Homo sapiens: one gene and its partner. The protein of the gene in region 1 interacts with the protein of each later gene in a pairwise test. Each region holds a gene or a part of one and is shown on either strand. Other genes may lie near its edges.

Region 1 (8,852 bases):
AGGCAGTGCTCACTTCTTTTGTTTTCACACACACACCCTTTGTGAAAAATATTGGTAAGGCAGGTGGGATATCACAAAGCATAATCAAGTCCCAACTCTTAAGAAATTTGCAAACTGTCAGACTTCATGTTTAGTTAATGAGCATTCTTTACCAGTTGATCAATTTGGTTATGTTAATTTTTTGTTGTTTTGGTGTTTTTTGTTTGTTTGTTTTGGAGACGAGACTTAGTCTTCCTCTGTCTCCCAGGCTGGAGTGCTGTGGCACGATCTCAACTCACTATAACCCCCACCTCCCGGGTTCAAGCGATTCTCCTGCCTCAGCCTCCCGAGTAGCTGGGACTACAGGCATGTGCCACCACGCCCGGCTAATTTTTGTATTTTTAGTAGCGACATGTTGGCCAGGCTGGTCTTGAACTCCTGACCTCAAGTGATCCACCCGCCTTGGCTTTCCAAAGTGCTGGGATTACAGGTGTGAGCTACCATGCCTGGCCTGGTTTCATTAATTTTATTTTAGAATTGCAACAACACAGTTTCATCAGCTGAGGATATTTCTCTCACGTGCATTTCATACAAAAGTATCAGGATTATATAGCTGAAAAAAGCTTAAAAATCCACCAGACATCGTAAAAAAGTCTGAAGGGGTGCATCTCACACATGAACATAAAAACCCAGTCATCGTGCTGTGAACTACAAAAGGATCTTTAAAATACAAATAACTGGGCCTCACCCTCATTCTTTTTTTTTTTTTTCTTTTTTTTTGAGACGGAGTCTCACTCTGTCACCCAGGGTGGAGTGCAGTGGTGCTATCGTGGCTCACTGCAACTTCTGCGTCTCGGATTCAAGTGATTCTCCTGCCTCAGCCTCCCAAGTAGCTGGGATTACAGGCACCCACCACCACGCCCAGCTAATTTTTGTATTTTTAGTAGAAATGGGGTTTCGACATGTTGGCCAGGCTGGTCTAGAGCTCCTGACTTGAGGTGATCTGCCCGCCTCGGCCTCCCAAAATGCTGGGATTACTGCCACTTGAGCCACTGCGCCCGGCCCTCACCCTCATTCTTTAAAATCAGGATTTGCAGCATTTTTTTGCAACTATTATTTTTAAAAAGCTCCCCAGGTGATTCTCATGTAGAGATTAGCCCTTGTACATATCATGCCAGAGAGCAGAGAATTAATTTTATTAATTATATTTTTCATAAATCTATAGAGAATGATAATCTGCAGTCTCCCTTCCAATGTTCAACTACCCTTCCTATCAGGAGATATCTCTTTGTGGATAAATTAATCCTCATGCTGTATTGAAGCTTATTTCTCTCTGTTCCTCCTTAGTGAAGAGATTGTATCTAATAATACCTCACATTTCATTTGCTTAGAGTTTAATTTACAATGCTTTTTTGAGACAGAAAACAATTGGGTTCATTCCTAAAAAGTTACTTTCTTATAAACGAATCACCTCTTCACTTTCTGTTTTCCAGAATAAATTGTTATAATCTTCTACACACCTCCCACATTTTCCCCCATAGCACTCTGCACAATGTCTGGAACATAAATACTCAGTTGTTATTAGCACCTTTCCCGTTTTATTTTTGGCTTTCTTTTGAATATTTCCTAAGTGTTCCTCCACATCTGGAAGCCAGAATGAGTAGTGGGCTGGTTAGTGTTGAATATAATATGAGGGTTAGAGACTTCCTGTGGTTGATGGAAAGATTTTTACAGGCTTTTATTTTTTTAATTTTATTTATTTATGTATGTATTTTGAGACAGAGTCTCACTCTGTGGCCCAGGCTGGAGTGCAGTGGTGTGATTGCAGCTCACTGCAACCTCCACCTCCTGGGTTCAAGCGATTCTCCTGCCTCAGCCTCCCGAACAGCTGGGATTACAGGTGCGTGCCGCCACACCTGGCTGATTTTTGTGTTTTTATTGGAGACAGGGTTTCACCATGTTGGCCAGGCTGGTCTCAAACTCCAGACCTCAGGTGATCCTGACCTGCCCCGGCCTCCCAAAGTGCTGGGAGTACAGGCATGAGCCACCACACCTGGCTTTTTATAGACTTTTAGATCTGATACTCAGATATAGAAAGTTTGATGAATGCACCATTGTGTTCCAGAGGCACACTGAACAGGACATTTTATTACATTTTAAAAATCAATTTTGAAAACCTGTGTTATTATATTTAACAAAATGTGAACGAAACCACAAATTATTGTAAAAGCCTGATTCCTCAACAATAGGCATTATCAAACTGATAAGGGCTTGGTTAAGAGAAAATTGCTTTCTCCTCAAAGATGCTGATAAGTTCTTTATAATGAGGGGTGAGAGTCATGAAGCTTTGTGCCTTTCGTCATACTTTACCCCAAGAACATGTGAAATTATTGAGCTTTTTATGTTTTCTTAATGTTAAGTTTATCCTAAAACAAATATTGTTTTAGAACTTATCTCACTGGAATTTGGATTCAGAAGTACCTGTTTCTGAAAATAAAAACCTCCCAGCTGGAAGGGATGGAGCAGCAGGTGGTAAGAAATCCTAGATGTGTATACTTATACTGAAAGAATCACTCATATTAAAAGGGGGTTTGTTTTGAATATAATCAGTTTTATGTAACTATTAATTGTCATTTTTTATACACATTTCAGGCAAAATTAACAAGGTAAGGATGAATGTTTGGTTTTAAGGTATTCATAAAACATACGATTTTAAAATAAGTATGTTCTTTAAAAAAATTTTCTTCCTGAAAGTTAAACTTTAAATTTCATTTCTGTAGAGTTCTTCACACAAGTCAAAGTCAAATATTTTAGAGTTTCAAGTTGGTTATTAAATGAATATTTTGTTATATTAAGTATTTTTCAGTATAACAATAATATAAATGAAAATTGAGTATAGTATTTTTTAGTCATTGCCGAAAGGGAAGTAGTCCTGTCCTTTAAAATGTCTTGAAGCAGGCCGGGTGCAGTGGCTCATGCCTGTAATCCCAGCACTTTAGGAGGCTGAGGCAAGTGGATCACTTGAGGTCAGGAGTTTGAGACCAGCCTGTGCAATATGGTGAAACCCCATCTCTACAAAAATACAAAAAAATTAGCCAGGCATGGTGGCACATAGCTGTAGTCCCAGCTACTCGAGAGGCTGAGCTCAGCAGGAGAATCGCTTGAGCCCGGGAAACAGAGGTTTCAGTGAGCCGAGTTCGTGCCCCCGTACTCCAGCCTGGGCAACAGAACGAGACCCTGTCTCAACAACAACAAAATGTCTTGAAGCAGTTGAAATGACCAATATCTTGTTCTGAAGTAGTGGAAAATTAATCTTTTTGTTTATCCTTTTTGATCAAAACATAAAACATTTCACTGCAAAATAAAGACAATCTTAATGATATTCAAGTCTTATTAGTTAACAGTTTAGTTGGTATTTATAATAAATAGGTTTTACTAATTTCTGCTGAAATCAGTAAAAACAAATGATTTCTTTGTATATAAACAAAGTGTCATTCAGTTTTACCATACATTCCTTGATTAGAACAAGAACTATACATTGTTAGAACAAGAATAGGGAACAGAGATATATTATGTTTAAAAGTCTTCTGCTGCCTTATAGAACTATTTGGAAATTCCAGTGGAGCAACTGATGCTAGAACCTAATTTGTCGGTGCATAGTCAAAAAAGTACACAGGTGGGATTTTATTCTTCATACCCTTAAAATATTATATTTTAAAAATATATGCAGCTACTAAACTATTACCCATTATTTTTCTGTCATCAGAATAGTAAACAAGGGATCTTTCAATTATGGAATTGTCCTCTTAATGAAGGAAGTACCATAGAGAAGAGGTAAGCGAGTAGTTATTTTGTAACACCCTAAATTACTGAAATAAATTTAGATACACATGAGATAACTATTTGAAATACAAGGACCATGAACAACCAGAAGAAAATAGTATTCTGTGGGAATAGTGGGCAATTGTAGAAGTCCACCCTAAAGCAGGAAGTGGCTGCAGATACCACGAGACAATTAGAATAGGTAGGAGTCAAGAGCTGACCATGTTCTGACAATGAAGGTTTTAGATGGATAAAGTATGGACTTCCTGTTGAAAGCAAAAGGAACTGTAATAGGAAAGTAGTATTGCATTCCAGGGACTATGTTAATTCCTTATATGTAGTAATTCATTTAAATCACAACCGACCATGTAAGGAAGGTAGTTATCATCCCTGTTTTGCAGATGAGGACACTGAGGCATGGTGACAAGTTAAGTAACTTGCTCAAAGTCACACAATATTAATGAAAGGGAGAGCCAGGATATGAAAGTAGCCTCTCAGACCTTACCTGAGGTTTTTTTTTTTTTGAGACGGAGTTTTGCTCTTGTTGCCCAGGCTGGAGTGCAAAGATGCAATCTCAGCTCATCACAACCTCTGCCTCCTGGGTTGAAGCAATTCTCCTGCCTCAGCCTCTGGAGTAACTGGGTTTACAGGCATGGGCCACCACGCCCAGCTAATTTTGTATTTTTAGTAGAGACGGGGTTTCTCCATGTTGGTCACGCTGGTCTCAAACTCCCGACCTCAGGTGATCCACCCACCTCGGCCTCCCAAAGTTCTGGGATTACAGGTGTGAGCCACCATGCCAGGCCGCTTTTTTTTTTTTAAATACTTTTTTAAGTTCTGGGAATACATGTGCAGAACTTGCAGGTTTGTTACATAGGTATACACGTGCCATGGTGGTTTGCTGCACCCAACCTTACCTGAGTTTTAATTCTTTTTTTGTGTGTGTGTGACAAAGTTTCACTCTTGTTGCCCATGCTGGAGTGCAATGGCACGATCTCAGCTCACTGCAACCTCTGCCTCCCAGGTTCAAGCAATTCTCTGCCTCAGCTGCCTGAGTAGCTAGGATTACAGGTGCCCGCCACCATGCCTGGCTAATTTTTGTATTTTTAGTAGAGATGGGGTTTTACCATCTTGGCCAGGCTGGTCTTGAACTCCTGACCTTGTGATTCACCCACCTCGTCCTCCCAAAGTGCTGGGATTACGGGCGTGAGCCACCGTGCCCGGCCCCTGAATGTTAATTCTTATTTTTTTGATTCTTAAACTTTATCGTGCATTAAGACTAGCTAGAAGGCTTCTTGGAAACACAGGTTACTAGTATTTGGAAATGAATGCTTTTTGAGGGCTGCTTTGTGGAGCTTTTACATAGTGTCTTAGCTCATGGATCCTGAGTTCCATGGCTCTTTTGTGTAGTTTATTTAGCAGGAGAGTGGTTCACTTGTTATCAGCCATCTCCTAGTCAGAGAATTTTACTTCTGTGAGGCCTGGGATACAGTTCACTTTATGTTAAAATTCAAGGGGGAAATCAAGTTCTATGGCAGTTGTGGTGACTGATGACCTAAAGGAATATTGGTGCTGATGGGGATAAGAAAGGCTATTTTTATGAGAAAAAACCTCAGCTGGGAAAAAGTATTTCAAGGTAAGTGGTCAAATGAAGTGAACTGAATTTTATGACAGTAGCAGAGGAGCAAACAAATGGAGGCGGTAGAATGCAGCGGTTAGGACCTGGGGCATAGGAGTCCACCACGTGCAGTTCCAGCTCTCCCACTTCCTAGATGTGTGCCCTCAGCCACTCTACACCCCCGTTCCCTTATCTGCAAAAGGTGGAAAATAAAAGTGCCTATCTCATGAGGCTGTGAGGACTAAACAGAACAATGTGTTTGGCAGGCATTTGCTATTAATATTGGGTAGGTTTAATAATGTTGCAGAGATGGAAGTTTGGTATCAATGAAAGATTTTTCTCCTCAATATACCATCAACAAATAAAAAGAATAAAAGTAACGATAACTTAGTGTTTAACATTTTGCAAAGCATATTCATATAAATTCTCTTGCTTCTCAGACTACCTCCAAGGTAGGTATTATCATTTCCATTTTGCTCACTCACTGGTAGCAAAGGGGTTCAAACCTAGGCCCTCCCTTTCCAGATTTCACACTCTTCATACTACATGTACGTGTCTATTAACAGTTGTAGATTTAAAGTGATTTTCCTGTGGTTTTTCAAAGGCAAAGCAGTATGCCTAGTATTTAGCTAAATTAGTATTTTTTTCTTTTTCTTTTTCTCTTTTTTTTTTTGCAACAGGGCCTCATTCTGTCACCCAGGCTGGGGTGTAGTGGTGCAGTCATGGCTTACTGCAGCCTCAACCTCTGAGGCTGAAGCAGTCTTCCCAACTCAGCCTCCAGAGGAGCAGGGACTACAGGTGCATGCCTCCATGCCCAGCTAATTTTTTGTAGACAAGAATTTTGCCATGTTGCTCAGGCTGGTCTCAGAATCCCAGGCACAAGCAACCCGCCTGCCTTGGCCTCCCAAAGTGTTGGGATTACAGGTGTGAGCCACTGTGCCTGGCCTCGAAAGTATTTTTCAAAACTTTTCCAGATTACTTTGTTATCTTTAATGTCAACTGGCTTAAAAAGAAACAAGAGGATATCAAGACTATATGTCAACTAATGCATCAAATCTTTTAATCTCAGTATTTCTAGTTATCTTTAAAAAACAAAAACTAACTAGAAACTCAGTATTCTATGGCTTTTTTGTAGTTTTCATTTTAACATAATACCTAGAATTACTCCTAAAATAGAAGAGCATCATTATATGAAAATTACTAGGGACTATATCTGGGATAATTTTTAATAGGTATTGTTTGCTTCCTTTTTTGTTACAGTAATTTTTAAAAACCACAGTGGCTAACATAGAAGGCTTTTTAAAGTAACCTAATTACATTTTTTGAGTTTCCTTTTATCTAATTCTGGATCAATAAACATTTCACTTTAATTTCAGTTTGAGTTAGATATCCTCATTTTCAAACATAATAATTGCATGTACACTATAGACAAACATATAGTTAGCCACTTTTAACCTTTGTCTATTCACAGCTACAGTTAGCCGTTTTAGGTGTCATAATCTAGTCACCTGTGCTTGCACAAAGGGATGCCCAGTTAATATTTTAATCTATATTTTTAAAATTTATGTAGTTGTATATTAGAGCATTTTTGGAAACTAACATATTTCTGTTGCAGGTAGCTAGATACACATATGCCATTGGGAACTAAACATTAACCAATCTTTGATAAAGGGTACTTAACTGTATCATTTTAATAGCATTTTAATTCTAGTCAATAAACCATTCATTAATTAAATTATTTTTTAAAGGGAATTCAAAAAATCTTCAGTGGAAACTGGCTTTAATGTAATCAATCATCCTATAAGGGTCTTCACTCTGAACCACCCATTAACAATTGCTTCAGTTGATAAGCAAGTTGGTCCTTACCCTGGACTGCCAATGCCATTAGGTCTCTGCTGGCCCTATGCTGATGGAGACTTTTTTAAGAACAGAAATGAGATTCATGTTAGTTCATGTTCAACTATAGAAAACAATGATGGTGAAACATTACCTGCTCCAAATTGGAATTTGAAACATGGAAACAGCAGTGTGGAAGAAAATTTCACAGATGAAAGTGATTTATCAGAAAATGAGAAGACAAATGATACTTTACTCAGCTATTTTAAAAAGGTGGACCTGAACTTGAAGCCAGAAACAATAAAAAATGTTGAGGAACCTTTCACCGAGGAGCCAAATGAAGTATTTCCATATCCTGATTTTCTCCCTCCTCCTTTCAGTGCTCTAGACTTGCACAATTTAGCCCTCTCCAAATCTGACAATTGGAAAGTGACAGTGGACCCTGCAGAAACCTCTGTTGAACACTTGATAACTCGTTTACTGGAACTAGAACGATTACAACATATGACTATTCAAAAAGAGAGGCCAAGACTACAAACGACTTTCTGTACTCCAGCAGTTACTGAACGACCCTCTTCCTCCAAAGCTACACCAAAAGTGAGACAGCCAAAACTTTGCGACTCTTTGAGTCTTCAGATACCTTGTGTAGATAAAAGTCAAGAAAAAAGTAAAAACAACTCTGGTTCTTGTAAGCTTGAACAAAATGCTTTAAAACGGAATTGGAGCAATGCTGGCAAATATAGATGGAATTCTAGACCACTGTCTCTAAAAAGTTCTTCCACCCCAAAACAATTGATTGAAACTTATGATAAGAATCCCAAAAGTTCTATTTTAAGTCCATGCCAAGAACTCTCATTCAAACCTACTATTGGCCATACAAATCAATCAATGGTTAAAATGGTCTCCACAAGATGTCTGCCATGGAGGTCTCCAATGCCAGTTTCACCTATACCTCTGACTTTTCCCGAAAATCAGAAGGAAGAAATTAAGGCACCGAAGAGAAACTTTGGGACCAAAAAGAAACTTTACCGACAAAATATAGTGTTGAATAGACCATTCTCTATTCAGAAGCTAAACTGTTTGTCGCCTTCCCTTATTGCTAAGGATAAGTGCTGCTCACCCATTGAACAAAAATAACTCTTTTCTTTCATACATCTCAATGTGAACACATCTACTCTAAGAAGCCCAACTAAGATATGGTTAATTATTCCAAGACACAGGTACTATTAACAGTCCCCCAAAATCACCAAACAGTTGCTTGATGTGATATGGAGTAGAACTTGTGAAAAGCACTGCTGAGATGTCTATATATAAACCCACAGGCTTCTATACTGACATATTTCACAATCTTTTGCATGTTGTGTTTCAAGTAAATGGTTCACTTGGTAGACTATTCTATTCAAAAGGCTACTCTTTTTTCAGTGATTGTTTTCCAGTATAATTCCATCAATAAATGGTATAATTGACTTATTGCAGCTGTAGTTCTTGTCATATAGTCATAAGAGTTGATTTTTTAAAAAGTCTTTCTCACTCTGGTATCATTTTTTTTTTCCTGTGCCCTCATCTCCACAGATCTATCATTTTGACCTATCCTTTG
Region 2 (7,000 bases), on another chromosome or scaffold:
ACGAGAAACCAAGCAGAGAGATCTAGATCTTAAAAATCATACAAAAATGCTATTGGTCTGATTTGGAGACAATTTTCTTAGATTGAAAGAAGAAAGGTAAACAGCTAAAAGCAAACCAATAATCTGGTGTATGGGAGACGGTGATATTGATAGCTCCTAAAAGGGGTAACATTTAAGAATCTGATAGGGGAATTCAGGCAAAGGTAAGGAATTCTGTCTTGTAGAAATTAAGTTAATGAGATATTTAAGGATGTGGGAAAAAGAAAGCAAATGCAATTGAGAGAAGAAAAACCAGATAAGTAATAATTTCAGATGGCTATCAAAGCTATGGAAACAGATGAGTTCTTCCTTAGAAGATGTGGTAAGAAACAAAAGTGGAGTCCAAACGCGTATATAATCACAGGCAGACAATGAAGATAAAAGATATTTAAAAACATTTTTGGAAAGAGTGGTCCATAGGAAGGGGAATTTTAAAAGAAGAGATATCTAATCTTCTTAAAAGAAGAGGCCACACCAAAAGTAACCTTTGCTTAGGAAGGAATTAGCCATTACAAACTTTTGAAATCAAGACGATGCTGGAGTGGAGAAAAGGATTCTCTAAAGAGAATCAAAAAGAACTGCATCAGGGAAGGCAAACATATCAAATAGCACACTGAACTCTTGTCTTTTCTTTGAAGGTTGCACATTACCTGTTCAAAAGCTGTTGAAGCTTTTCTCCCTTGCTCTAGATCAACTGCAACTGCCATAAGTAAACATGTTTTCCGTGCAATCAGAATTACTTGATCAGAAGGACAAAACTGGGACATCTGATAAGAAGTAACCAGAACATCAATGAATAGTGAGAATTCTGCCAGGTGAACACAAACAATCAGAATGAAAATCAGCAACTTCCTGTTTGAATGAGAAAATTCAGCTGGAAAAGCACATGTCACCATAGAAATGATATAAACTATAATACTGATTTATGCTTTTAATTTTATATTACTTTCCATTGTTTTTAGTACCTTCCTAGAGATAAAAAGCTTCATTTCTTCACAGTATTCCTATCTTTTCCAGTGACAAGTAGTATCATTCGCCCTTGTATTTCTATCTAGTGATTTACTTCTTGGTTTATGTTGTAATTTGTAAGTGATTTTTCCCCTGGCAAATAAGATTTCCACCTTTGTATTGAATAGAGCCAAAATTAGTTCATATATTGTCATGGTTGAAAGAGGCATTGTCAAATCTTGACAGGCATTAGTCATGACCTCATCATTAACATTGTATAGTTTTAGGAAAAACTCCCAGCTACTACAATAAAACTCTAGGCCATTTGGATTCTTACACGCCAATCCTACAAGTCCCATCACAAATGCCAAAACTAAAACCAATTTATTTCACTTAATTAAAATGGCAGTTATGCCTAAACTTGCAAAGACTATTTCTTAATCTCCCCAAACATTCAGTGATCATAATCATCATTGTTATTAAATTAATAGCATTTTAAGACAACCAATCTCTTTAGGTCTCTGATTACTCTTATGTGAGATGAAGGAGTTGTGCTAGATAGTCTTTATAGTTCTTTCTAGCTCTAAAACTCTTAACATTTAATTGATCTCAACATATCATACTGTGTATTCCTGAATGTGTATGAAGGATATTCTTTAGTCCTTCTCCTTTTATCTTCCTGTCAATACTTGGTCCTCTTTCTGGCATTTAACCTCTACCTTGGAGGCCAACGACTATTTAAAAATGCTTATAATTAAATAACAAACTCACAAATCGCTACACTCAGGACCTGCTATAGGAAAGTTATAAAGGAGGCCTAAGCTTCTTATCTCTTTTTTCAGCCCCTGCTATCCCCAGATACTTATTCTATGTTCTTGTAGACTTATTCCCATAACTCTTCATAATGTGTTGGTAATTAACAACTACTTAGAGTATTCCCCTCCTAAAGATATTTACATTTTAATATAGGACTTTGGGAGGCTGAGATCCCTTCAAAGGCAAAGAAATAAGTCTTAAATGGTAGAACTTTAGGCTCCCTGATGAATGTTTCTGATATTTTGGTATAGAAAGATATGCCCCACATTCTTATGTTATACCCTAAAAGGAACAAATTCTTCTTAGGTCATTCCTGCTTACATATATATTAAAAGTTCCTAGATCAAGAGACAATCCTAGTCTATATTTAGCCCTTTACTATAGCCATAGTGGTTATAGCCTTGTTGTGGTCCATACATGAGATACTTATTAAAAGAAACTTACCTTATAAGAAAGTATAAAAAACTCTCTCATCATCACTGGATCTTTGTCACATTGCACAGCCAAGTTCCAAGCTGGAAATTAACATGAAATAACATAATAATATGAAATTATGAAAATCTACCATTTAGTCTGTACCATTACAATTTCTGATACTTACACCTTTGATATTAACATACTAGTAAGGGGTTTCTCAAGGTTTAAACAATTAACTTTAGGTTTTAAAGAAAAATTTTCCAGGTAAATTTAGAGACCCTCGTCAATTCCAATCTTCAACACTAGACCAATGACCAAGGGAGGTACTGCTGAATTTTTTAAAATTGGGGACATGCAATAAGAATTCTTAGCTGAGGCCAGGCTTGGTGGCTCATTCCTATAATCCCAGAACTTTGGGAGACCAAGGCAGGAGGATTGCTGGAGGCCAGGAGTTCAGGACCAGCCTGGGCAACAGAGAGAGACTCCGTCTATACAAAAAAATTAAAAAACAAACCAAAACAAAACAAAACTAGCCAGGTGTGGTGGCACACAACTATAGTCCCAGAAGACTGACACCAGGAATTTGAGGTTACAGTGAGCTATGATGCCACCACTGCACTCCAGTCTGGCAGCAAAACTCCGTCTCAAAAAAAAAAAAAATTCTTAATTGACACTAATCTATCTAAAAATGAAGATCAACATGGATAGAGCTCACTAACTCGCAGTGGTGAAAGTAAGTTAAAATTCACCTAAGAACAAGGTACACTGTAATCAAGAGTTGAGAAAAATTACTGGAGAGATTCATATCTTCCAAAGAGCAGTAGAAGCCCTCATCAGGCATCAGTCAGCATCATCTTCCCCTTGGAAAATCCAAATTAAAATGCAGTAAAGTAAAAACATTCCTTTTCAAACCTTCAAAAGATTAAAGTCACCAAACTTGTCTATATTTTAAATGTTTGTTATTTTTCATTATTTGCATCAGTTTCTTAGAAGTCAGATTGCAGTATTCATTCCCTTTCTCCCAGGATTAAAGCCCTATTAAACCTCATAACACAGGGAGAGGTTCATGTAGAATCAGTCCACTTTGTGGCACTGCTGCTTAATTGCTCATGCTTACTTATCACTGTAGTAACTGCCTCCGCAAGTTTTAAAATCATTTTTATTGAAATAGAGCCATTATAAAGTATATTACACAACTCATAATTGTACAGCTTGATGAATTTTCACAAAGTGGACATATCCATGCGTCTGGCACCCACATTAAGAAAGATCTTGAACATTACCAGAAACCCTGAAGCTCCTACAACTTTCAAGTCCAACTCCTTTTCCAGGGTAACCATTATCCTGACTTATAACACCATATATTAGTTTTGCCCATTTAAAAAATTATAAATAAAATGAACAACACAATATGTATTCTTCAATATCTAGCTTCTTTTGCTCAACATTATGTTTGTGAGATTCATCCATATTGTTGTATATAGTTCATTTTTGGTCAATCACACTCAGAAATAAATTAAGTATTCTAGGCCAGGCACGGTGGCTTACGCCTGTAATCCTAGCACTTTGGGAGGCCGAGGCAGGTGGATCACGAGGTCAGGAGATCGAGACCATCCTGGCTAACACGGTGAAACCCCATCTCTACTAAAAATACAAAAAATTAGCCGGGCGTGGTGGCGGGTGCCTGTAGTCCCAGCTACTAGGGAGGCTGAGGCAGGAGAATGGTGTGAACCCGGGAGGCGGAGCTGGCAGTGAGCTGAGATCAAGCCACTGCACTCCAGCCTGGGCGACAGAGCGAGACTCCATCTCAAAAAAAAAAAAAAAAAAATTAAGTATTCTAAACCAAGTTTAGGAGCACAACCTTGAGGACCTGTAGTTACAGTTCATTAGTTTCATCTTAGACCCATTTCTATAGAAAAGGGACACAACTAATGTCCATTGAGTATCTACTATGAAAAAAGTATATATGCTGTTTCATTTAAAACCCTTAATAACTGCATGAAGTATATATAACTATTTCCATTTTATAAGTAATAAAACAGATTAAGCAAGTTATCTCTGTACCCACAGCTACAAATGAAAGATCCAGAATTTGAAATCACATCTGTCTAATTCCACCACCCCACAATGTTTCCCAGAGCCACAGAATTTCCTCTTACCTGTTTTTCGAAACCACTGAGCTTCATTAGCTCTTGACTCCAAACTTAAGGCTTCTTCACCAAAAGGCTGAGAAAGTTTCACAAAGGCTGCATCAAACAGGAAAATTTGATACTGATGGTCTTATTTTATACTCTAGCAAAATTGTTTAATCCTGCTTTAAGAACAGTCTCACAGGAGTTTGAATTTAGAAAGTTCTTTTTTGTGTATGTGTGTAGGGGTGCATACCAAAAGTAATTAAAATGACAGAAAGCATTACCAAGTTCCAAGAAGTTGTTAACTCAAACTCTGGGGAACAAACATGTCTTTGGAGAGATTTATAATTTTAATTAGTGCAATCATTCACCACCTGAGGTAGAAAGATATGATTTACATGTGAGGAAATAAAAAATAGAAACAATCGTTTAAAAGACTGAACTGGAGATTGAAAATTAGAAGGGTATCAATATGCTGGCATAATATTTACTGAGCCAGCAAGCTCAGGACAGAACCAGAATGTGCTATCACTATCAGAAGGCATTCTCTTTCTGAGAAATAAGAATGCCAACCAGCAAAGTTTTTCTCTTTTGAAAAGAAGTGGTCTGGTTTCTAAACCACTTTGCTATGTTTAACACCCTGCTGACAGGTATTTGAGGTATAAAATTGAACTACTGCACTGAGCAGGATAGAATTTCTAAGATATGAACTTTTTGGTGTGTTTTGGACATAAGGAAAGAGGTACATGGACAGTAAAAATGGGAGATCTGTTAAAAGGGATGCCATGTAAAAAAGCATGTAGTTAGAAAAAAAATGTGATACAACTAGGAGATTAGCTTGAATAAAGTGGACAGGGAAAAATTATTAGTAGATAAGGGAGATGGCACAGACTTGGGTGGACAGCTTCAAAATAAGAGAATATGCAACCTGAATTTGATTCAGAGGGTATGAAAAAAACAGCAGGGTTCAGAGTATTTTTATTTGTCTTGATCTTTTTTCACCTGTTCAATTCTTAGGTTAGGATCAAGTGGCTACTAGAAAAGAAAGGTAGAGGGACAGGGAGGGAGAGAAGGGAGGAAGGGAGAGAAGGAAAGGAAAGGAGGGAGGGAAGGGGGAAGGAGAGAAAGAAGGAAGGAAGGAAGGAAGAGAGGGAGGGAGGGAGGGAGGGACGGGAGGGAGGGAGGGAAGGAAATGTCCTTAAAACAAATAGGAATTAAAACAGAACTGAAATCACATTTGGAGATGAATGCTAATGATGACACACTTTTCTCTGCTTGTGAATGAAGAAACCAAAATAGATTCCTGTGGCAAAGATTAATAAGGAGCATGAAGCTTAACTCAAACATAAGGTTAAAGTTGCTGTGCTTAGTGTACTTGGAGAATTCAACAGAGAATAGAGGCAAGATGAAGGACTGAATATAACCAGGGAGATATTTACCTCTATTCAGGCAAGTCAAAAGTCGATCCATTTCTTTCTTCCTAAAAATAAAGAAAAGGATATTTTCCAACTGCTCCAAATCTTTACTATAAAACATAACTAAAAAGGGACACTATTTGTGCCTGAGAATTGAACTAAGAAAATGCAAAATTGTGAAGTTTTTTGCTCAGGACTCCAATCTACCATTTCAACAATCTTCTTCCCCACTGTAGGATACAGTTACTCATTCCCAGTGCCCTCATATTTTTTCTCTCTTCTACTTCTTCATAAACTCTCAGCAAAGGATTTCAATGACAAGGTTTTATATTGTAGGGTCATAACACTTGAGAGCAGCTGGTGATCTCTGTGATTTATAAGCTTTTTTGAAGGGGGGAACTAGAACCCTTATTTCAAATAAAGTTGTATAAAAGTCTAATATACAAGAAAAGATAAAAGATAAAAGTTGAGCTGCTGTGGTTGAACGAGGAGTGGGTGGAGGCTTGGAGTTTCACCTTCCTGGAAGTCCCTGATGCAGTGCCACAAAATTTCCACGGTTCTAAGGAATGCAGCTTAAAAAATAACTTATCTTGTACAGACACATCATTTTACAGATGAAGAAAAGAGTAGACCCAGGTTTCCTGACCCCTCTGTCAAGCTTCTTTAAGCATATAAAATTTAAAAGAGAACTTCCGGTTTCTAGTTATGCATGTAAGGAGCTTGGAAGTTGCCAGTTTCTCCTAACAAGTAAAACGCTGAACACACTGAAAAATTAGTAACTCTTCTTGGACCTATAAGAGACGAGAGGAAAAAGGGAAAACCACTGCCACAAAAATTGGAGAGAAGGGCGAAGATAGGGAGTCATAGCTTACTAGAGCAGAGATTCAAAAGTGGAAACTACCATGGGAACCAATGCTGGAGTAGGAAAACCTGAAGCGTAACTGACAAACCACTGGAGGCTCAGTGTGGACAAGTCTGAATTAAAAGACTCAGGAGGACCCAGTCATAAGGAGGCCTCCACAGTTTTGTGAGTTTTGCCTCCAGGAGCTTGGTTAGCTACTCAGTGAATATTGGAGCAAAATCTCTTTATGCATCTTGCAGGGGGCAGAGGAAACAAAACACTTTAAAACATGCCAGAGCACCCTGTTCTTAACAAGTCTTGCCCTCAAGAGAAACTGCTTAACCACAGCCTGACCTTCTGGGGTATATCAGAGCCTAACTGATCTCGGAGAA

Evidence for each region. Proteins that work in one complex are often made in the same cells at the same time.
Region 2: the proteins of FAM217A (region 1) and TEX11 interact in binary tests that used the Homo sapiens proteins (3 or more experiments, as listed by UniProt).

Annotation. Positions count from the first base shown.
Region 1 is NC_000006.12:4,068,236-4,077,087, reverse strand, and holds the end of FAM217A (protein FAM217A), read left to right. Parts: intron 1-608; exon of another isoform or gene 609-699; intron 700-2,426; coding exon 2,427-2,511; intron 2,512-2,631; coding exon 2,632-2,645; intron 2,646-3,580; coding exon 3,581-3,655; intron 3,656-3,745; coding exon 3,746-3,813; intron 3,814-7,167; coding exon 7,168-8,392; 3' UTR 8,393-8,721; downstream 8,722-8,852.
Region 2 is NC_000023.11:70,604,712-70,611,711, forward strand, and holds part of TEX11 (testis-expressed protein 11), read right to left. Parts: intron 5,833-7,000; coding exon 5,792-5,832; intron 4,467-5,791; coding exon 4,380-4,466; intron 2,319-4,379; coding exon 2,248-2,318; intron 807-2,247; coding exon 690-806; intron 1-689. UniProt on the Homo sapiens protein: Regulator of crossing-over during meiosis. Involved in initiation and/or maintenance of chromosome synapsis and formation of crossovers.